Homo sapiens: one gene and its partner. The protein of the gene in region 2 purifies or fractionates together with the protein of the main gene of each other region. This does not show direct contact. Each region holds a gene or a part of one and is shown on either strand. Other genes may lie near its edges. The genes, in order: HTR2C and TMEM161A.

Region 1 (3,829 bases), on a different chromosome or scaffold from region 2:
AGATGAACTACATGAAAATAAAATAATTTTGTATGGCAAAATACCATAGCTATATCAAATAGCAAACAGAAAATATTTTCATTTATAACATGTTAAATGGTTAGTGTCTATAACTTATAAAGAGCTATTAAATTAAGAAATAAAAATGAAAAAAAATCAGAAAAAATGAGCAAAAGGACACTTAAAACTGATTTAGCAATGGCACTGAAGTGGTTTTCATACATTTAATCATATGAACTTCAGCCAAATAAAATAGATGCAAATTAAAATTACACTGAGGTAACATTTCTCACTTATGGGATTTGCAAAATCTAAAAAGTTTGAAAATAAACTTCATTAGCAAGGCTTTGGGGAAACAGAGGCTTTCTTGCATTGCTGGTGGGAATGCAAAATGGTTCAACTCCTAACTACATGTACCCTTTGATCAATCAACTCCTCCTCTAAGAATTTATTTAGAAGATAAATTCTGAATACATTTGAGCAAGAATTTATTTAAAAGTTAAACTTCCAATAATATGAAACACACACATGCACGCGCGCGCGCACACAAACACACAAGACAGACACACATGCACGCACGCACACACAAAGGACACACACACACACACACACACACACACAATTATTCTTAGTAGAATTATTGGCAACTTCCAAATGTTGGAAACAACTTACCTGATTATACACAGAAGATTGGTTAAATAAAGTATATCAACACAATCTATTATTAGTGAGTGTAAAAAATAATAGAATGAATTTAGCTTTTAATTGGAGTATTTAGGCCATTTACATGATAAAGTTGGGTGCATATCTATCATCTTACAAATTGATAGAGTGATTTCCAGGACATATTTCCAAGTAAAAGAACAAAGCAAAACAAAGTATTAATTTGTATGTAGCATTTTAACTTTTAATTTAAGAATGGAAAAATAACAATACGTGTATTTGTGTATAATCTTTTTTTTTTTTGCAAAAATAAATTCAAGAAGTATGCCCTAGAAACTAATGAATGGGTTAACCACGGAATAGAAGAGGAACTGACTCTTCTCTGAGTATTTTATTTGCCTAGTTTTGACTGTTGGAGCATCATATTAAAGTTTTACATATTAAAAAATAAAGTCAACAAGGTTGGGGAATACATGCAAAAACAAAACAAAATCCCTAAATGTGAACAATTGGTATCAGAACCACAGAGAAAAAAAATTCAAACTAATCCTAGCATTTTGAAGACAATGCTTTGACTATATGCCATTGGTGGAAAACATTCTAAAGATAAAATTGCAATGAAATTTTAAACATTGCATTTCATTTATTGGTAGTGGTATGGGTATAGAAATTCTGAAATTAATTTCTTGTATGGTAGGATATAGAAAATATAAATAATAAATATATCAATGGTTTGGGGACAAAGTTACTCACTGTGAGAAAAATGAGGAAAAATAAAGAATTGGAAAGTAGCAAGAGTCCTGTGTTCGTGAATTGGGATTAAAGGTATTGATATATAGGAGCAATGATATCCTATTAGCAATGAGCATACTGAGCTTCTGCATCCTGCTTTATAAAACCATTGCCCACTAAAAGGGTTTCTTGTAAGAAATGGCTAATTTCGGAACTGGGGCATGGAAAGTAAAAGGTGAGTCTGGCAAATGCTCAAAAGCTGATGGGATATATGAAAAGGAGTTCTTATTAGAAAAATATGAGACAATTTGAGCATCAAAATAATTAAGGGCAATAATGAATCATATATATTACACTGAATACAAAAGAATCCAGGAGTCTCCACCAACATGAACTAATAAATAACAAAGACTTGGAGGGAAAACACTTCCTTACAGTATAATACCAACAAATAAAGGCAGGAAGAATAATAAAATGAGAAAAATTATCATTGTATCACCTTAGTAATAGATAGCTTAGGGAAGAATCATCAATGGATTTGAAATCCATTAGGTCAAAGTTTATTGGGAAACAATTTCTTAATTTCCAAATATACGAAGGTTTTTCTACTATTTTGAAGTCATTTCTATTTCTTTTGAATTTCAGTCAAAGAATAAACAATTTATTCCAACCCTTTGGAATGTGTTGAGGAATTACTTTATGGTCAGTTTTGATAAATATTTCTTGTGCAATGATGGGAATATGTATTCTTCACTTGTCAGTGAGTTCAGGTTTGTTAATTGTTTTCATACAATCGCTGAGAAGGATGTGCTAAGATCTTATGCGATGATTGTAGACTTGTCTATCTGTCCCTGAAGTTCTGTCCTCTTTTACTTTATAATGTATATACTATGTATATTACATATGTATCTACATATAATTATGTACATACAAATTTATTACCTTATGTCTTCCAGATGTATTAAATCTTTCATAGTAAGTAATCTTCTTTCACTGGAGTATTTGTTTTTTGCCGAAAAGTCTATTTTGACAAATATTAATATAGCTATACAGTCTTTCTCTTGGATAGTGTTTAGATGGAGGAATTTTTTTGTTTGTTTTTATCCTTTTACTTTCTTTATGCTTTATATATGCCTCTTGTAACATATAGTTGTCTTATTTTTTTGAAAGCCTATATGACAGTCTTAGAATCCTTAGTAATTCATATAATTAGGGATATATTTGGTTTTAATTCTGCCATTCAGTATACGTTTTATATTTTTCTATCTTTTATTGACTCCTTTTGGATTTATCTTATTATTTCATTTTATCTTTTATTTGTAGAGACAAAGTGTTGCTTTCTCATCAAGGCTGAAGTGTCATAGCACGATCATAGCTCACTGCAACCTCAAGACACTTGAGTTCAAGTGATGCTCCTGCCTCAACCTTCTGAGTAGCTAGGGCTACAGGCACATGCCACCATACCCAGCTAATTTTTAATATTTTATAATAATCTTCTGTAAATTTGGAAATTCGCCATCTCTAATCTGCCACAGAGTTCTTAGGTTTTCATTTTTTAATTAATTAATTTTTTTTGTGTGTGTGACAGAGTCTCACTCTGTTGCCCAGGCTGGAGCGCAGTGGCATGATCTCAGCTCACTGCAGACTTGACCTCTGAGGGTCAAGTGATCCTCCCACCACAGCCTCCCAAGTAGCTGGGATTACAGGCGTGTGCTACCATACCTGGCTAATTTTTGTATTTTTAGTAGAGATGGGGTTTCATCATGTTGTCCAGGCTAGTCTTGAACTCCTGGCCACAAGTGATCCGCCTGCATCGGCCTCCCAAAGTGCTGGAATTACAGGTGTAAGACACTGCCTGGCCCTTAGTTTTTCATATTATGCTTAAGTTCCATATTTTCTAGGTGTTTCTCAAATCTTAATGTCATTTGTTATAGTTTGCAGTTTCTTGCTGAAGTGTTTAAGATCAGCATGTAATTTCCATGTGCACATTCCAAATGATTATTTAAAGTGTATGTCTGATAATTCAATTATCTGAAGTGTTTGTAAGTTTATTTCTGTTATCTCTTATTGTCCCATACCTGATTCATGTTGTATTGTCTCCTCATATATCTGCATATCATTGTATTTCAGTGACAGCATTTGAAAATTATTGAAAGAAATAAGTTGAAATCTAGGATTATGGGGTTTTTTTTGTTTGTTTATGCCCCAAAATTGGAAACCTGAATAATACGAAATCATCTTAATCCAATTTTAAGGCCCAAGATTTCTCTCATTTACATAGATGACTTGAACCAGGGCTGAATTCCATGTCTATGGTGATTTAATCCTGGTCGATCCTTATTCCTAGTGTCTGGTTTTTTTGTGATCCCAGAATTAAATTCAGGTTGGTTGGCCCTTGCCAGACTCTGTATTCCTACTCTAGTCCTCCATTGCT
Region 2 (3,829 bases):
GGTAAACTGCCAGGTGTGATGGCTCACACCTGTAATCCCAGCACTTTGAGAGGCCGAGGTGGGTGGATCACCTGAGGTTAGGAGTTTGAGACCAGCCTGGCCAACATGGTAAAACCCCGTCTCTACTAAAAATACAAAAATTAGCCAGGCGTGGTGGCGTGCACCTGTAATCCCAGCTACTCAGGAGGCTGAGGCAGAAGAATTGCTTGAACCCAGGAGGCAGAGGTTGTAGTGAGCTGAGATTGCACAGTTGCACTCCAGCCTGGGTGACAAGAGCAAAACTCCATCTCAAAACAAAAACAAAAACAAAAAAAAACTTAGGTGAACAAAAGTGAGACCTGGTAAAATATATATAGCATTAAATGCTATATATGCTATAAAATTAGAAAAGATTGAAAATTTATGAGCCAAGTAGCTAACTGAGAAATTGGAAACAAGAAAAGGAGGTACGCCAGTACTGTTCTCAAATCCAGAGGTCCTAGCCACACCAAAGGGGAAGGATCAGACAGAACAAAAGAAAACCAAAAAGAATCTGCAATTCAATAAAAATATAATTGTTTAGCAAGGTTAGTCCGTGGAGACACTCAAATTTGACCCCTATATGATAACACAAAAATTAATGTCACTGTCCATCAGCAACAGTGAGTAGTTTAGGAGCTTATATGAAATGTAAAAGTTGAAATATTTTATTTATTGATTTTTAAGATGGAGTCTTGCTCTTGTCGCCCAGGCTAGAGTGCAATGGCGTGATTTCGGCTCACTGCAACCTCTGCCTCCGGGGTTCAAGTGATTCTCCTGCCTCAGCCTCCCGAGTAGCTGGGATTACAGGTGCATGCCACCTTGCCCAGCTTTTTTTTTTTTTTTTTTTTTAGACGGAGTCTCGCTCTGTTGCCCAGGCTGGAGTGCAGTGGCGCGATCTTGGCTCACTGCAAGCTCCACCTCCCGGGTTCACGCCATTCTCCTGCCTCAGCCTCCCCAGTAGCTGGGACTACAGGCGCCTGCCACCACGCCTGGCTAATTTTTTGTATTTTTAGTAGAGACGGGGTTTCACGGTGTTAGCCAGGATGGTCTCGATCTGCCGACCTCGTGATGTGCCCATCTCGGCCTCCCAAAGTGCTGGGATTACAGGCATGAGCCACCACCCCTGGCCAGTCATTCTATATTTTCTTCTAAAATATTTCAGCCAGGCGTGGTGGCAAGCGCCTGTAATCCCAGCACTTTGGGAGGCTGAGGCAGGTGGATTGCCTGAGGTCTGGAGTTCAAGACCAGCCTGGTCAACGTGGTGAAACCCCATCTCTAGTAAAAAATACAAAAAGTAGGCCGGGCACGGTGGCTCGCGCCTGTAATCCCAGCACTTTGGGAGGCTGAGGCGGGTGGATTGCCTGAGGTCTGGAGTTCAAGACCAGCCTGGTCAGCATAGTGAAACCCCATCTCTAGTAAAAAATACTAGAGATCGCCCACTGCACTCCAGCCTGGGGGAAAGAGCGAGACTCTGTCTCAAAAAAAAAAAAAAAGACAATGTAGAATGACTTTCTGATTTTAGGGAAGGATATTTTTCAAGACAAATATCAACTAAAATAATCAACTTCCATTCATCAAGACACTAGAGGTGACACTTACAACTACATTTGACGACTCAGCAAAGAAAGTGTGATGCATGTATGCAGACGGAAAATAATGCAAATAGTGGTCAAATGAAAACAAAAGAAGTATTGGCAATGAAGTGGATAAATTTGGAACACTTGTGCACTGCTGCTGGGAATATAAAATATAAAATGGGCTGAGCACAGTGGTGCACACCTGTAATCCCAGCACTTTGGAAGGCCGAGGCTGGCGATTGCTTGAGTTCAAGAGTTCAAGACTAGCCTGGGCAACATGGCAAAATCTGTCTCTATTAAAAACACAAAAATTATCTGGGTGTAGCCAGATGTGGTGGCTCACACCTGTAATCTCAGCACTTTGGGAGGCCAAGATGGGCAGGATCACCTGAGGTCAGGAGTTAAAGACCAGCCTGGCCAACATGGCAAAACCCCATCTCTACTAAAAATGCAAAAATTAGCCAGGTGTGGTGGCGCACACCTGTAATCCCAGCTACTTGGGAGGCTGAGGCAAGAGAATCACTTGAGCCTGGAAGGTGGAGGTTGCAGTGAGCCAAGATCATGCCACTGTACTCTAGCCTGGGTGACAGAGGGAGACTGTCTCAAAAAATAAAAATAAAAATAAAAAAATAAATTAGCTGGGTGTGGTGGTGGGAGCCTGTAGTCCCAGCTACTTGGGAGCCTGAGGCATGAGAATCACTTGAATCCGGGAGGCAAAGGTTGCAGTGAGTGGAGATCACGCCACCACTGCACTCCAGCCAGGGCAACAGAATGAGACTCTGTCTCAAAAATAAAATAAAATGGTTCAGCTGCTGTATAAAACAGTATGGCAGTCCCTCAAAAAATTAAAAGTAGAATTATCATATAATCCAGCAGTTCCACTTCTGGATATATACTCTCCAAAACTGAAAATGGGGTCTCAAAGAGATACCTGTACACTCAGGTTCACAGCGGTATTAGTCAAAAAGCCAAAAGTTGGGAACAACCCAAGCATTCATCTGTGGATGAATAAACAAAATGTGTTCCACCCAGACAATGAAATAGTGTTCAGTCTTTTTTTTTTTTTTTTTTTTTGAGATGGAGTCTTGCTCTTTCACCCAGGCCGGAGTGCAGTGGCACTATCTAAGCTCACTGCAAGCGCCGCCTCCTGGGTTCACACCATTCTCCTCCCTCAGCCTCCCGAGTAGCTGGGACTACAGGTACCCGCCACCACACCCGGCTAATTTTTTGTATTTTTTTTAGTAGAGACGGAGTTTCACCATGTTAGCCAGGATGGTCTCGATCTCCTGACCTCGTGATCCGCCCGCCTTGGCCTCCCAAAATGCTGGGATTACAGGCGTGAGCCACCGTGCCTGGCAGTGTTCAGTCTTAAAAATGGAATTCTGGCTGGGCCCAGTGGCTCACGCCTGTCATCCCAGCACGTTGGGAGGCGGAGGTGAGAGGACTGCTCGAGGCCAGGAGTTTGAGACCAGCCTGAGAAGCATAGCAAGACCCCATCTCTACAGAAAAAAAAAAAAAAATTAAAAATTAGCCAGGTGTGGTGGCATGTGCCTGTGGTCCCAGCTACTTGGAAGGCTGAGGTGGGAGGATCACTTGAGCCCTGGAGATCAAGGCTGCAGTGAGTTGTGATTGCACCACTGCACTCCAGCCTCGGTGACAGAGTGAGATCCTGTCTCAAAAAAAGAAAAAAAAATTCTAACACCTGCTACAACATGGATATGCCTTGAGGACATTGTGCTAACTGAAATGAGCACGTCACAAAAGGACAAATACTGTATGATGCCACTTATATGAGGAACCCAGAGTGGTCACATTCACAGAGACAGGACGTAAAATGGTGGGTGTCAGGGGCTGCAAGAAGGAGGAACAGGGAGTTAGTGTTTGATGGGCTGGAGTTTCAGTTTTGCAAGAGCAAAGAGTTGTGGAGATGGACGGTGGTGATGGTTGCACGACATCTAAATAGACTTTTTTTTTTTTTTTTTTTTTGAGATGGACTCTTGCTCTGTCGCCCAGGCTGGAGTGCAGTGGCGCGATCTCAGCTCACTGCAAGCTCCGCCTACCAGGTTCACGCCATTCTCCTGCCTCAGCCTCCCAAGTAGCTGGGACTATAGGCGTGTGCCATTAGCCTAGCTAATTTTTTGTATTTTTAGTAGAGACAGGGTTTCACCATGTTAGCCAGGATGGTCTTGATCTCCTGACCTTGTGATCCGCCTGCCTTGGCCTCCCAAAGT

What was found.
Region 1: the proteins of TMEM161A (region 2) and HTR2C purify together in Homo sapiens (co-immunoprecipitation; one large-scale study listed by IntAct). This does not show direct contact.

The regions. Positions count from the first base shown.
Region 1 is NC_000023.11:114,849,556-114,853,384, reverse strand, and holds part of HTR2C (5-hydroxytryptamine receptor 2C isoform a precursor), read right to left. Parts: intron 1-3,829. UniProt on the Homo sapiens protein: G-protein coupled receptor for 5-hydroxytryptamine (serotonin).
Region 2 is NC_000019.10:19,124,666-19,128,494, forward strand, and holds part of TMEM161A (transmembrane protein 161A isoform 1 precursor), read right to left. Parts: intron 1-3,829. UniProt on the Homo sapiens protein: May play a role in protection against oxidative stress. Overexpression leads to reduced levels of oxidant-induced DNA damage and apoptosis.